Regions from separate parts of the Homo sapiens genome. Here regions 1 and 2 are each linked to region 3. The links come from fine-mapping of genetic effects on gene expression. A gene starts in region 3. Each other region holds a variant in brackets. All regions are shown on one strand. Distances are between the middles of the regions. Region 1 overlaps FGF2 (fibroblast growth factor 2). Region 2 overlaps AFG2A (AAA ATPase AFG2A). Region 3 holds the start of AFG2A (AAA ATPase AFG2A).

Region 1 (5,424 bases), 68 kb after region 3:
CTTGGCCTGGTTTGTGGAGGTATTGTAATTCAGGTGGGAAAATTCCATCCACTTTTGGCTGGGGCATTTTCTGGTAAGAATAATTACAGTACTAACACCTCAGTAATCTGGATTTCAGGACCCCACACTGACTCCTGGCACAGCAACACCAGGCAACACTGACGACATGCATCTATAAATACCTGGCTTCCACCTACAAAACGCATCAACCCTATATGTGTTAAATGGTCTTTTCTTCTCAGGGGCCAGCTGTTGGAGAAATGTTTCTAAAAATAAGTTGCCCACAAAATTATAGAAATGGAGAACAGATGGGTAGTTTCCCAAGGTGGGGCTGAGGGAGTGAGTGCACCTATAAAAGGGCAACCTGAGGAATCACCGTGATGATGGAAATGCTCTGTATCTTGAATGAATCAATGTCAATATCTGGGTTATGATACTGTACTACTGTTTCACAAGATGTTACAATGGGGGAAAATTGGGTAAAGAGTACAAGGAATCTGCCTGTATTATCTTTTTACAACTGCATGTGAATGAATCTATAATTATCTCAAAATTTTAAAATTTAATTTAGAAAATACCAGCCAACTAGTTCAAAGTCTCTACTTCTAGCTTAATAATTAATATTTTAAATCTGTGCTTTAAGATCTAGAAATTACTTGAGAGAAAGAAGCTAAGCAATATAAATAAGATTCCTTTAAATATTACTTTTAGTGTAACTTCCATTTCCATGTTAGAACAGAAAATGGAAGAAATTGAGAACCCAAGGGCAGAAGAGCCCGCAGACCAAATAGCCTCCACTGTATTTAGATTTTTTCATTTTACAATTCATTGTTGACTGAGTACCTGAACTAGGTCCCATTCAGGTACAAGGGATAAAGCACTGAAAGGAACCAGACACTGTCTCTGCTCTTGTGGATTTTACATTCTAGTGCAGTCTCTTAAAGCCAAATGAATATTGTGTCTTGAACACAATATAACACAATGTAACACAATATAAAAATCTGATGAGAGGTTTCAATTAATACTAAATTTCAATGATTTTATTCTAATAATTATATTAGAGAAAATATGTAAAATGTTTTGAAGAGGAATCACTATTTGAAAATTTTTTTTTCTGATGGCTTATTCTACTTATCAAATTCTCCCTTATTCAGAGACACATATGGTCTGTGGGCTATCCTGCCACCATGAGCTCTCAATTTCTTCCAATCCCTATTCTTCATAGTCTCTGAGTAATTTCACTAGAAGGTGAGGGTACGGGGACAGAAGAAAAGAAGGATGAAGCTCAAATATCACTTTTGCTACCTGTTGGTTGCACTTTTAGTAATTAGAAGAGGGGAGAGGATTATTTAAAGACAAAAATTGTTCCTCAGATAGCTGAAAATCTACAGATTTTTCTCATTTCCATTAGTAAGGGAATGTTAAGAACTTCTCTGGTGACCCCAGAACATTTGGTCACCTGACATTTCTTTGTATTTCCTGCAACGCTTACTGAATAAACAGGAAGCTCATCAGCTCCTAGGGCACCATCTGCACTACTTATGAGAAAATGTCTTCTAGCAGAGGCCTTCCAAAGCTGGAGGTGGAAGTGCCATGGTTTAGACAACCTGCTCTGTTGTCTGAGGAGGCAGCAGCAGACAGGCCTTTGAGGAAGTCAGTATCTTCATATGGAACAAGTTGTTGGAAGTCAGACCTTCAGTCAGGGTTGGCAATACTTTCACAAAAACAACTGAGAAATACTTCAACAAAACTGCTGATATTTTGAAATGTGAGTTCTTCAATATAAATCAATTCTTGAAAATTCCTCTCAGTACGCTGAAATCATAAGCAGCTCAGAAAGAGATTAAACAAAAATATAAGCTGCCTTAAGTAAGTATTTCTGCAACTAATCCAACATACTCAAGAGATGGAACACCTCCTGAATATAGCCTTTTCTTGGCAAATTCTTCCTTTTCGAAATGCTTCTTGGGTGATTTGAGAGAGCTTGAGGTTTCTCCTCAAAGTTAATTAAGTAAGTGCCTCATGGAGATAATGCAACCAGCTTGTTGGCCATGTTACTTTCCCTAGGGGTGAATGCCAATTAGCCGGGCTGTTTGTGTTCCTGGCACCTCTTTCTGGATTAAAGAGTTCACATTCATCCACAAAAATCACACAATTCAGGCAGCTCCAGAACAGAAAACAGAGCGGCATGTGTGTGCCCGGAGGAGGAGGAGCTTTGGGGGAAAGGCAAGTAGGGGCACAGGGTGGGGAAGGGAAGCTGCCCAGAGTGTTCCAGTTATTTAATACACTCTCCCACACAGTCATTCTATTTGACTGTAAAATCATTAGGAAAACACCTTTCAAAGCAGGCTTAAGACAAGAGAGTTTTATTTGACTCCCATGAAAATAGCCCCGGCAGCACGTCTCTCAATCAATGACGAGCATTACTGCAGCCTCCACTTTGGAAAACCACGCTTCCAGCCAAGAGCTCAAGGCCCATCTCCAAAACTTCTGAGAAGGCCCTTGCAAGGAAAATTCTTCCCCGCATCCCCTGCATGACATATGCTGGGTGGACTTAGTAGGAAGTTGGAAACGGCTCCTTTGCCTGAAAGTCTTCAGTAAGAAAACAGGACCTCTTCTTCAGCTGTGCTGAGTATTTAAAGGAATAAAACAGGATCACAGTAAAAGAAGATCATGGCTCCACCCTCAAGAATGCAGCTGCCTCTAAGTAGAAGTTAATAATTAGGCAGACTCCAGAGCTGAGTTCTTTA[A/C]AATATGCTATTTGAAATTGTTGTTAAAAGCCTGTGAGGTGCGGGAGACTCTTCTCCAAAAAATGTTTACCATTTCCTTACACAATCTTGATTGCCAGGGTCGAATACTACCACTGGTTTCACAAAAATATTGTGTTTTTGGAAAGGAAATGCACAGCCATCAAAAGAGTATCAGTGAATAACGAATATGCTCATTAGAATTCTGTAGGCGAATGCCTTTCTATGTTTACTACTTTAAAATATTGTATCCTTATGTGAAAAAGAAGCTATTTTTTAATGTCCTTTTAAAAAATCTTCTCACATCCAAAAGGCTTGCAGATCTAAAAAAGAAAATATATAATGGCTTTTCCCCATGTTCCTAGTATATCTTCTATGCTCTATCTACAGAAGAAACAGGTACTCTCATTGTGCAGTATAACCAGCTAAGCCTTCATCCATCCCAGCTCCTCTCTAGACGCAGCAAATACAGCACATATACTGATGCTTTACAAATGTCTATTTTTAATAGTGAAGATAATTAACAAAACTGCATTCTGCATCTCTCTCCATTTAATATATAAGAACGTTCATTCTTTCATTTAACTCCTATCAATATTGTCCATTTTAGTTTATAAAAGATAAGGAATTAGGTAAGTTTTGCTTATATTCTTCATCCAGCAAGCATTTATGAAGCACTCATTGAGTATCAAGCACAGCATTAGTATATACACCCTCGCACCATTCCAGTAACAACTACAAAAACAGACCACGTGGGTATGGATGCGTAACCCAAGTGCAGCAGGAGTAGTGTGGTGAACAAAAGACAGTTCAAGATGTTTAAATATTGGGGAATTCCGTGAAGGGGATCTAATTTCTAACTCCCTGAAATATTTCCTGATTCCCCTTTTCCCTCCTTCCTAATTCTCAAAAGTACAAATAGCAACAACAAAATCCCTTCCTCCTTACATCTTGTCTTCAGGGTTTTTACTCTACCTCAGCATTGTCTCCTCTGTTCCCCTCTGTGTGTTAAGATATTTATAATATACATGAACTTAAAACTCTCTTATTAAATAACTTGCCTCATCACACTCTGATTCTGGAGGGTGGAGGGCATACAATAGTAAAAAATAGTTTTTATTTTTATTTCACTTTATTTTATTTTTGAGACAGGATCTCACTCTGTCATGCAGGCTGGAGTGCAGTAGCATGATCATGGCTCACTGCAGCCTCAACTTCCCTGGCTCCAGCAATCCTCCTGCCTCAGCCTCCCAAGTAGCTGGGACCACAGGCACCCACCACCACACCTGGCTAATTTTTGTATTTTTGGTAGAGATGGCATTTTGCCATGTTGCCCAGGCTGGTCTCCAACACCTGAGCTCAAGCAATCCACCTGCTTCTGCCTCCTAAAGTACTGGGATTACATGAATGAGCCACTGTGCTCAGCCAGAAAATAGTTATATAAATGGTGCAGAGCAAGATAAATAAGGCCTCAGAAAAGGGCCCTATAACAGAAAGGTTAGGTTTAATGCAATCTGGACTATAAACATACCGTAGGTTCTTGAAAAGAAATGCATCAGGCTAAAAGTGGTGTTTAAAGAATTAATAACTGGAAAGGTTATTACAGCTGTTCACATGTAAGATAATAAAGATGTGGACTTTGATGGTGGCCATGAGGATGGAAGGCAAAGGATGAAATGCCAGGGTTTCATGAAGTTTGAATTTTGGTAAAAAATGAGCAGTGGAAAAAAATGTTGTGTTTAGGGGGTTTCAACTTGGAAATATGAAAAACTGACACAGAAAACAATTAAGGGAAAGTTGGTAAAATGAGGATAGTCAGTTTATGATCTAGCACCAATTCCATGCTCATAAAAGCGAGGAATTAATTGTTTATCTGATGGCAGACTTATTTTGGTGGCTCCAATGTACCACACCACCTGATATTTATATCTTCTGTAGCTCTTCCCAAACTGAATCTAGTCCTAGACATGTTGACTGATGTGACATTGGCAATTTTGATATTAGCAAACAGGATGCAAACAGCGGCTTACACAATGGAGCTTGCTCTCTTGGAACCCTTTCCTCTTGAGATCCAGCCACTGAAAAAGCCCAAGCTAACCTGAGAGAGACAGCACCTGGAGAAAGATATCATTAGGATTCCAGTTATCCCTGCTAAGGTATTGGACATGTAAGTAAAGCCATTTCAGATATTCTTGTCCCCGTGACCACTTGACTGCAGCTGCATGACACATTCTAAATTATACCAGGGGAACTATGCAGTTGCACCCAGGCCAACCCACAGAATCATAAAATATAAAATCACTATTTTAGACCACACAGCTTTGAGATGTTTGTTACACAGCAATAGACAACTGAAGCAGTGGAGGACAGATAAGATATAAGCTTTGAGAGATTTAGGAATAATAAATAACAGTAAAATGGTTACTTATTATTTGACAGTACTATCCTAAACACACTGCCTATATTATCATGTTAATCATCACAACAATACCAACATAGTAGCTATTATCAGCTAGTATCCCTATATAATAGATGAGGAAACTAATATTTAAATAAATTAACTTACCCAAGAGCATAGAATTAGTAAGGCACAGCTGAGACATAAACCCAAGTCTACCTGTTACCTGCACATATGTGAAAGATGAAACTGTGAGAATGAGCTCACCAGAGAAATGAG
Region 2 (5,424 bases), 57 kb before region 3:
GAAATATTCTCAACAAAATATTTGCAAACCAAATTCAATAGCACATTAAAAGGATCATACACCATGATCCAATGAGATTCATCCCTAGGATGCAAGGCTGCTGGTTCAACATATGCAAATCAATAAACATGATACGCCACCTTAAAAGGACGAAGAATAAAAATCATAAAATCATATCAATAGATACAGAAAAAGCATTTGACAAAATTCAACATCCTTTCATGATAAAAACTCTCAATACATTAGACAGAATGTATCTCAACATCATAACGCTATATGTATGACAAGCTCACGGCTAACATCATACCCAACAATGAAAAGCTAAAAACTTTTCCTCTAAGATGAAGAGCAAGACAAAATGCTCACTCTCGCAACTTCTATTTAATATAGTACTGAAAGTCATAGCCAGGGAAATTAGGCAAGAAAAAGAAATAAAAAGCATCCGAATTGAAAAAGAAGAAAAAAATTGTCTGTTTGCAGATGACATAATCTTATATAAAGGAAACCCTAAATATTCCACCAAAAAAAAAAGATTAAAACCAATAAATGAATTCAGTAAATTGGCAGGATACAAAATCGACAACAAAAGTCAGTAGCATTTCTATACTCTAACAACTATCCAAAAAATTAAAAAAAGAAAATCCCATTTACAATAGTATTTTTTAAATATACCGAAAAAACTTAACCAAGACGGTGAAAGACCTGTACACTGAAAACTATAAAATACTGATGAAATAGAAGACACAAATACATAGAATAATGTCTAATGTTCATGAATTTTAAAAATTAACACTATTAAAATATTCATACTACCCAAAATTGTCTACAGATTTAATGTAACCACTACCAAAATTCCAATGGCATTTTTCTCTAAAATATGAAAAGCAACCCTAAAATTCATAAGGAAACATAAAAGTCACCATATAGTCAAAGTAATCTCAAGCAAAAAAAAAAAAAAAAGCTGTAGGCATCACACTATCTGATTTCAAAATATACTACAAAGCTATGATAATCAAGACAGCAATATACTGGCATAAAAACAGACATATAAATAAATGAAACAATAGAGAGCCCAGAAATAAATCCACGCATGTACAGTCAATTGATCTGCAAAGGTACCGAAGAACACGCAATGACGAAAGCACAATCTCTTTAAAAAATGGTGTCAGGAAAACTGTATATCCACATGATATCCATATGATAAACTGTATGTCCACACATGAAACTGGCCAGTCTTCTCACACCACATACAAAAAATCAGTTCAAAATGGATTAAATATTTAAACATAATATCTAGAACTGTAAAACTACTAGAAGAAAACATAAGGAAAAGCCTTATGGCATGGGTCCAGGGCAATGAATTTTTGGATACACTCCAAAAGCAGAGGCAAGAAAAACAAAAACTGACAAACAGGACTGCATCAAACCAGAAAGTTCTGCACAGCAAAGGAAACAGAGTAAAGAGACAACCTATGGAATGGGAGAAAATATGTGTGAACCATATATGAGGTAAGGGGCTGCTATCCAAAATACTAAAATATATATTAAGAAACTCAAACAACTCAAAAGCAAAAAAAAACAAACAATCTGATTAAAAATGGGCAAAGGATCTGAGTAACATTTGTTAAAAGAAGACGTACAAATGGCTAACTGGTATATGAAAATATGTTCAATACCACTAATCATCAGGGTAATACAAATCAAAACTATAATGAGATATCACCTCACATCTGTTAGGAAGGCCATTACCAAAAAGATGAAAGATAAGTGTTGCCAAGGATATGGAGAAAAAGAAACCCTTGTACACTGTTGGTGGGAATGTAAAGTGGTACAGACATTATGGAAAAATGGTATGGTGGTTCCTCAAAATATTAAGTTACCAAAAGATTCAGCAATCCTACTACTGGGTACATATCAAAAGGAAATGAAGTATCTCAAAGCGATATCTGCACTCTCATGTTCACTACAGCACTATTCACAACATCCAAGATAGGGAATCAATCTAAGTGTCCCTCAACAGATGAACAGAGAAAGAAAATGTGGTATAATGGTACAAAGAAATGTGGCATAATGGAATATTATTTGGCCTTATAAAAAGAAGAAAATACTGTCATTTATAATAACATGGATGAATCTGGGGAACATTATGCCTACTGAAATAAGTTAAGGTACACAGAAAGACAAAAGATCTTACTCATATGTGAAAAAAGCTAATTCCAAAAGGTTGTATACAGTATGATTCCATTTATATAAAGGTTCTGAAATAAAAATTTAGAAATGAGGGGAGGAATGAGGTGGGTGTGATTATAAAAGACAACATGAGGGATCTTTGTGGTGATGGAATTACTTAGTATCTGTGATGAATATGCAAACCTTTTCATGAGATAAAATTGTATAAAACTAAATAAACACATACACACAAGTAAAACTGAAAAAATATGAGTAAGATCAATGGATTGTATCAATAGGGGTATCCTGGTTTTAGTATTGTAATATAGTTTTTTGGGTGTTTTGTTTTTTGTTTTTGAGACAGGGTCTCGCTCTGTCACCCAGGCTGAAGTGCAGTGGCATAACCATGGCTCACTGCAGCCTCAACATTCCCCAGGGCTCAGATGATCCTCCCACCTCAGCTGTAGCTGGGACTACAGGTGTACACCACCACACTCAACTAATTTGTACTTTTTGTAGAGATGGGGTTTTACCATGTTAACCAGGCTGGTCTCAAACTCCTGGGCTCAAGTGATCCGCCCACCTCAGCCTCCCAAAGTGCTGGGATTGCAGCCATGAGCCACTGCACCCAGCCTGTACTTCAGTTTTGCAAAATGTTGCCACTGGAGGAAACTGGGTATAGGATACACAGAATCTCCCTACATTACTTCGTATAACTGCACTGAATTTACAGCTATCTCAATAAAACTTTCAATTAAGAAAAATATTTTTTTAAAGTTTAGCCTAGGAAGTCAGTCTCCCTGAACTCTAAATTTTTTTCAGAGTTTAATTCAAACAGTGTAGCTAGTGTGGGACATAAATGACTTACATTTGGGACATCAATTGCTATTTCCCTCATGGCACTGGGTCTGATATCATTCATTGCCTGCAAGAAATCCTTCAGAGTAATCTT[C/A]ACCAGTCCAGCCACCTTGACATCAGGGAGGTTAGGCTGTTTTTTCAGGATTCTCCGCAAGGCACAGAGACCTATAAAGAGAGGAAAGTAACACAAGATTTGTCTTTTCCTTCATAAATACAGACTGAATTGATGGCTCCGGTGGCCCATCTGGAGTGGCAACAGTGAAGACACTGGCTGCAGTGGGGGAGGCGTGGCCAGGGCTGCATACTCCACGAAGCCAGTGGGAGCTGGGAACAGGCAGGAGCCCTGCTCTTTTCCAAGTTGGTGGGGTGTGAGCCCCACTCACCCAGGCACAGCTGCAGCTGCCCAGCCATGGCTGTGGACCCAGGTATCCCTCCACTCTCGAGAACCCAGGAAGCACCCCCTGCCCCAACAGGCTCCGAAGTGCCTGCTTCTACTGCCTGGCCTCTCCCCAGTCCCAGAAAAACTTTTTGCCTGCTCTGATTTCAGACCAAAGTTAAGGCTGAGCCAAGCCACTGTCATGACCCACCTAGGTGTTCATGTGCTCAAGGTGGCACTGACAGTCCAGCTCCCTTCCACCTTGGTCCCCTCCAGACTTTGGGTGCCAATGAGTATGTGAGGGAGGCTGAGGGTGGCTTGGCGCAGTCCTGCAAGCGCCCCTCAGCATGAACAGCCCCAGCACCATGGACGACATGATTGATGGCAGCAGGAGGCAGAGAGGCTCCTGGGCAGAAAGGAGTGAGTCCCTGGTGAAGCCCCACCTTTAAGCCAGGGACAGCCTGAAGCATGGAGGGCAGGCTGTCAGAGCTGGGTAGAGTCTGCAGCTGAGACCAAGAACTTATGGTGCTTTTTCTGGGCCTGCCCATGGCCACCCATGGACCAATCAGCATGCACTTCCTCCCTTCTGAAGCCCATAAAAACCCGACTCAGCCAGACTCACTGGGATGTCAGGACTACCAGCTGTGAGAAGGAGCTACCCACCCTGGGTCTCCTCACCACTAAGAGCAGGACATTCACTGGGACACCCTGCCTATGGAAAGGAGCTACCCACTCCGGGTCTCCTCTCCGCTGAGAAGTAGACACTCGTTGGGGCAACCTGCCTGCAGAAAGGAGCCACCCACTCCAGGTCTCCTCTCTGCTGAGAGCTGGACACTCATCAGGCTGACCAGCTTGAGGACAGGAGCTACTCACTCTGGGTCTCCTCTCCGCTGAGAACTGGACACTAGCTGGGATGCCAGATAGGAGCTACCCATTCTGGTCTCCTCTCCACTGAGAGCTGGACATGCACTGGGACAACCTGCCTACAGAAAGAAGCTACCCACTCTGGGTCTCCTCTCCACTGACAGCAGGACACTCATCAGGATGACCTACCTGCAGAAAGGAGCTACCCACTCCAGGTGTCCTCTCTGCGGAAAGCTAGACATTTGTGAGGATGGCCTGCCTGTGGACAGCAGCTACCCCCTCCAGGTATCCTCTCTGCTGAGAGCTGGACGCTCATCAGGACGACCTGATGGCAGAAGGACCTACCCACTTCAGGTCTCCTGAGAGCTGTTCTCTTGCTCAATGAAGCTCCTCTCTGCCTTGCTCACCCTCCAGCTGTCCACATACCTCATTCTTCCTAAAGGCTGCACAAGAACTCAGGACCTTCCAAATGGCAGGACTGAAAGAGCTGTAACACAAACAGGACTGAAACACGCCCACTGGTCACCACATTTTGGGCAATGAGAAGAAGAGGAGCTGTGGCCCTCTGGGGAGCCCAGATGCAAGGGCTGTGATCAGAGCTGTGATACCAGAGCTGTGACACTCTCTTTGGGGCTCTGCTGTTTCCAACATCTCCAAGCTTCCAGGTACCACCACGTTACCTGGTGCCCACGGTGGAAAACACTTGTGGTATGCCTGGTCCAGCCACATCCTCACACAGAGCCGGTGCCTGTGCCTGCACCTGGGGCTGTCCACTCCACTGCAGCCAGCATGCCTGGCTGTGTGCAGTGGCCGGACCTCGGGCTCACTCACACCCCCTTCACTGCTCTGCGCCTGGCTCACCCTTGGCAGGTGTAGGATCCAGGTCAATAGCACAAGCCAAGTACAGCCTGCTGGACCAAGTGGGCAGAACAAGCCCAGTGGGCCCGAGGATATAACTCGGGCAGAGGTGCCACCGGCCACAGAGGTTTCTGGCTGGAAAAGTGACACCCTAAGGATCCTGTGACAGAATTATCACCAATAAAAATATTAAAAAACCCAAACCCCATGCAAGATTACAGCATTTAAAACATTTTGTCCTTGTAGGGGAGGGGATGAGAGGTTGGAAGAGAGGTGGAAGAATGTGAAGAATAAATGTA
Region 3 (5,424 bases):
GATGAAAAGCAATGTCATGACAAGATCTTCATCTTACAAGATCATTCTGGCTGCAGAATGGAAAAGGAATAAGGGGCAAAATTGGAAGCTGGAAAATCAGTCAAAAGGCTGTTGTAGCAGTCCAGGTGAGAGATGATGGTGTCTGAAATTAAGGTAGAAACAGTGGGAATGGCATGCAGAAGAGGAATATGTAAAATATTTAGGTAATAAACATGATTTAGTGGTGGACTAGGTATGTGAGATATGGGGGGGAGAGTCATGGATGACTCTTAGGTTTCTGAATTTTGCAGCGGGAAAAACTGAACAGAGTTGAAGTTTATTTTGTTGGAGGAAATAACGGGCTCATGAAGTTAGTCCTGAAGTATCTTTGGGACACTCATGAGAAGAGTTATTGTACAGTGCTATTCAAAATATGACCCACAACGATTTGTTACTGCTTCATGACAAGTACAAAACAGGAGAATAAGTATATAGAAGCTTTTATTGAAATTTACAGAGTAATTTCACATCTGTTTAATAAAAATTTTTCCTTATTTTTCTAGAAAATCATTTTTACTGTATTTTAGAAAAGTGCTGATCTGTGACCTATTATAAATTTTAAAGTCTTCACCACAGAGAGCTTGAGAAGCATTTGGCTAAAAGGCAACCACATCAAGGCGCAAAAACAAAAGATTTACAAATATAAATCTGACACTGAAGAGACTATAGATGGGAAACTCTGGGCACTGGATGAACTTGCCAAGGAGACAGGATTTATTGAGAGGAAAAAAAAGGTTTTGGACTAAGAATTGACGAACTTCAACATTTAATGGTCAAGGGAAGAGGACGAGCCTGCAAAGAAAAATGATGAAACATCAACAAAGATGAAGAAAACCAGGCAAGTTTGACAACACATAAGAAGTTAAGTGTTTCGAGAAGGAGGGAATGGTCAACAATACCAAAAGTTGCTGTGGTCACGTAAGGTTTATCAACACGGAGATGCTCGGAGACCACACCAGGAACAGTTTCCATGGAATGATGGGGTGGAAGTCAAAGAGGAATAGGCTAGGGAGAGTATGTAAGTGGTGAGGCGGCAGAGACCACTCCATTTAAGAAGCTTGGCAATGGATAGAGAGACGGTTGCAGGAAGAAAATGTGGAGCTTTTGTTCTGATTTAAGATGGAAGAGAAATGAGCATGTTTACATGTCAATGGGAAGGATCTAGTTCAAAAACAAGTTGAACCTTCAGGACAGAACAAGTTGTCCTCTGATACCTAAGGCAGAGTGAAAATACCATGTGAACTCTAAATTGTCTTTAAGGTCTGATTAGACATAAAAGTTTTTGCCACTAGTCTGGTCCATTTTTCAAAGCTATTACACATCAAATATAAATTTTCAATTTTTAATTCAATTTATAAGACTTTTCAGTATAAATACGTTCTCCCAAATCAAAGGAGCTGTCATCTAGGAATGGCTTTTAAGTCAAACACATCTGGACTCAAATATCGGCTCTGCCACTTAGCACCTGTGTAGCCTGAATGGAATCACGTTAACTTTCCTCCCTCTATAAAACTGTCATTACTATACCCATCGGTCACGGCTTCTGTAGAAATTAGATGAGCTATATATACTGCTAACACTAGTGTGCAGTTACTAGCAGTTATTAAATATCATAACCTGCGTAGTACTGGAAGAAAATGCTATCATCACTCCTAAAGGCAGAGTGATCCACATTTTTACTGAATTGGTTATTTAGTTTTTTAGGATAAGTATCCCATGTTCGCTAGTTATGAACAATTTTGCAATTAAATGTGTCGTTAATGTTAAATGAGACAAAGCGTTTCAAGTGCAACTTAAAAATTCAAAATAATTTACAAAAGAGAAACCTTGGACACGGATAAACCATTTCAGCCTAACTTCTCCAGTGCAGGCGCGGCTACGTTTGCATGCTTCTTACATACAGAAGTCTTACACGCTTCTGTGCCGCTCTCAGACCCATGCCACGCCCAACTTTCAAAAGTCTCTGCACCCCAAGTCAGTATCACTGAGTCTCCCGCCCCTCAGGTTGCGCCCCCTCGGCCTCTAGTCTCCCACCCGGAATTCTTTACCCTTTTCTAATAAGTTGGTCACCGTCAGAGTCCCGGAGGTTGCCGCGAAGTCTGATCCAGCAGAAGGAGCCCGTGCCTCCGCACAAGAGGAAGCAGCAGAGGGCAAGGACGAACCATTTTCCGCGCTTTGGTTCAACCGCTTTCTATTCTTCTTGGAAGACATGGTCACAAGGTACCCTAGCCGAAGCAGTAGAAAAGCCGACTCAATGTGCGCGCTTCAACTGAGAGAAAAACTTCCGGGGCAGAAGTCAGCGAGGGTCCGCCCCTGCGCCGTAATCCCCTGAGTGGAGCGCAGCAGTGCACAGCGTGGTGGGAGGGACTGAGCGTTTTCAAAACCAGCAGTCTTTGAAACAGCTGTAACGGCATCTGTGAAAGAAGATAGGTTCCAGGAACGGAACTGCCACTTAGATTGTAAATTCCTGAAAAACAGGACGTTTTTGCATCTCCTCCCGGCTTCCCCATCCCTAAACCAACGTCTGTTGAATTAAACTACCAAACAAAATAAGTGAGTGGCGGTGGGGGAGGAGGTTTTCCCCGCTTAACTGGAGCGGGGCAAATTGCTGAGAAGGGCTGGTGGACCACTTCGCGGTCTCCTTGGCATAGCTCTGCAGAGTGGTAACCCCAGCTCAACTCTGAGGGTATTGATGGCACTCTTCTAAAATGTACGGCCGCGATCTCCGCTCTGGAGCGCGGAGGGGTCATTTGGGCAACGGACGAATTAAGCGGCGTGGAGATGCGGCAGCCACTGAGCTGGGGCCGCTGGCGCGCGATGCTTGCCCGAACCTACGGCCCCGGGCCTTCGGCGGGTTACCGCTGGGCCTCGGGCGCACAGGGTTACGTGCGGAATCCGCCAGTTGGAGCGTGCGATCTGCAGGGCGAGCTGGACAGATTCGGGGGCATCTCGGTGCGCCTGGCGCGGCTCGATGCGCTGGACCGCCTGGACGCTGCCGCCTTCCAGAAGGGCTTGCAGGGCAAGTGCGCCTGGGACGAAGGGCTCCCGGGGCTCCAGAGCTTTTCTAATGAAATAACCGCGGCCCCCACTCCCTAGTCGCTCTGTGCACCACTGTCGAGCCCAGAGGGAAAGGGAGAAGGCACGCGTGACCTGGACCTGTTTTCTGGAGCATTCGTGCTTAGACCTTTTGCTGGGAGGTCTCTAAGGCGGTTGGGTGAAATGGTGAAGATCCCGGACTTTGGGATCTGCAACCCTGGTTGCTGGTCCACTTTCTACTGTGCGACATTCGGAAATTGCCGTAAACCACCATTTCCTCTTCCACAGACCCCGGTGATAAGAACTCCTGGAATTACTGAGAGTTAATTTGGATAATGCACATAAAGTGCACAGCACAGTGCCTGCCACGTATTTAAAGCTCAGTAGATGTTTGTTAATATTATATTATTACATTATTAGTATCCTTTACCGAGCCTTGGTTCTGTCGGACACTTTTCCCAAGGAAAAAAACTCTTACATTCTAATACGGGTGGTGGACTGAGTGGACCAAAGAGGCTTTTCTTTTTTATTTTTAATTTTTGTGGGTCCATAGTAGGTGTGTATGTTTATGGGGTATATGAGCTATTTTGATAGAGGTATAAATGTGTAATAATTACATCAGGGTAAATGAGATACTCATCACCACAAGCATTCAACCATAATCCAGTTACTCTTAGTTATTTTTAAATGTACAGTTTGTTTTTTTTTTTTTTTTTTTTTTTGAGAGAGGGTATCATTCTGTCTCCCAGGCTAGAGTGCAGTGGTAGGATCAGGGTTCACTGCAGCCTCCAACCCCTGAGCTCAAGCAATCCTCCCACCTCAGCCTCCTGGGTAGCTAGGACTACAGGCGCGCATCTGGCTTTTTTCTATTTTTTCTAGAAACGGTGTCTCACTGTGTTGCCCAGGCTGGTCTCAGTCTCCCGGGCTCAACTGATTCTCCCGCCTTGGCCCCTCAAAGTGCTGGGATTACAGGCAGGAGCCACTGCACCCAGCCTGAATCTTTATTGAATATAGTCACCCTGTTGGGCTATCAAATACTAAACCAGAGAGGTTCAGAGTGTCACATTTGTATACAAATTGGGTCAACAGCTGTCTCAGCGAGAACTGGAGTTTTTTAGAATAACGCTTCTTTTATGATTAACCAGGGACGGTGGTGGGTGGTTTCAGTCTTCAATAAGAAAACTTTTTACTGGCTTTCAACCTTGAGCCCAATGATAAGAAAGCTTGGATGGAGGAGCCTTCACTTTGGAAGAAGTCGATTTAGTGGTGCAGCAGTTTTTCAAACGGCCTCTGAGGGTTTTATAATCTAATTGAAGGCATAGCATGCAAATTCAACTATGGAAAAATCTCTCACACTGGAAACTCAAAATAATCTTTATCCTATTGAGCAATATGGCAAGAAGCATATCTGTAAATATAATTGAGCTAGTTATTTCAATGTTTACTCATCCTCATTCCCAGACTTCTTACCTCTTCACATTATTTTCTCTCCTACTTGCTAGTAATTGCTGACAAGCCCGCTTATACTGCAACAGTGTCACTAATAGGAGAATCAATCGTTTTATCTTCCAGTGTGTGGGTAGACACAGGTGTTGTACCCACTGATACTTATCAATGACCAAACAGGTGATCAAAGCACTACCCCAGTCAGCATGACAAAGCAGAAAGCTGTGCGATTTGGAGGTGCACATTCTGGGTTTAAGTACCAGGTTCTGCCATGTGCTTAGCCAGGCATTAGGCAAATTGCCACCAAAAATATTTGCTTCTTAGCTTGCTTTTTGTGAATAACGCCAGCTCTAATTACTGGATAGATGCGTTGATCAAAGATGAAACTAATTTGTAAACTTAAGTACCAAATACTTGTTATATTTTTTCAATAAAACAAATTTTGTTGCACTTAATGGTAGATGTTTTAGGATCTTTATAAATAGTAATTAATCCTCCTAACAACCCTTTGAGGTAGATAGCATTATTATTCCTATTTTAAAGATGACAGTAGTGAGGCACAGAGAGAAAAATTTACTTGCCCTGGCTCTACACCTTTCTTACTGCACTATGCTACCTTGAAGAACTCCTGCTGGTTCTGTTGTTATAATTGAACAAAACTAACTGAATGGTAGTGCCTATAAAGAGAGACTATTTACACATGAAGTCCGCTATTCTTAGTCTTTATGGACTAAGAAGTCCATATTCTTGGTGGAATAAGAAGTCAACTATTCATATTCTTTTAGAACATGAACTATTGATGTTTTGTTACCAACAACTGAAGTTAGAGGGATAAACAGGCAATATGTTGTTAGCTTCACACATAACATATCTGCATCAGTAATGAAATAGCACTGGTTCTGG

What was found.
Region 1: its variant is fine-mapped to the expression of AFG2A in whole blood (TOPMed, PIP above 0.99).
Region 2: its variant is fine-mapped to the expression of AFG2A in whole blood (INTERVAL, PIP above 0.99).

What each region holds. Positions count from the first base shown.
Region 1 is chr4:122,851,766-122,857,189 of GRCh38, reverse strand. The region is part of intron 1 of FGF2 (fibroblast growth factor 2); the gene reads right to left. Among named protein-coding and RNA genes, the nearest start is that of FGF2, 28 kb to the right of the region's middle. The variant A/C (reference allele first, on the strand shown) is at 2,751.
Region 2 is chr4:122,977,000-122,982,423 of GRCh38, reverse strand. It overlaps AFG2A (AAA ATPase AFG2A), which reads right to left. Exons shown (of 16, transcript NM_145207.3): 10 at 3,038-3,192. Among named protein-coding and RNA genes, the nearest start is that of AFG2A, 57 kb to the right of the region's middle. The variant C/A (reference allele first, on the strand shown) is at 3,122.
Region 3 is chr4:122,919,969-122,925,392 of GRCh38, reverse strand. AFG2A (AAA ATPase AFG2A) reads right to left here and starts at 2,315. Exons shown (of 16, transcript NM_145207.3): 1 at 2,088-2,315. The coding sequence starts at 2,250. It overlaps NUDT6 (nudix hydrolase 6), which reads left to right and starts at 2,796. Exons shown (of 5, transcript NM_007083.5): 1 at 2,796-3,058. The coding sequence starts at 2,821. RefSeq lists enhancers at 1,954-2,323, 2,116-2,652.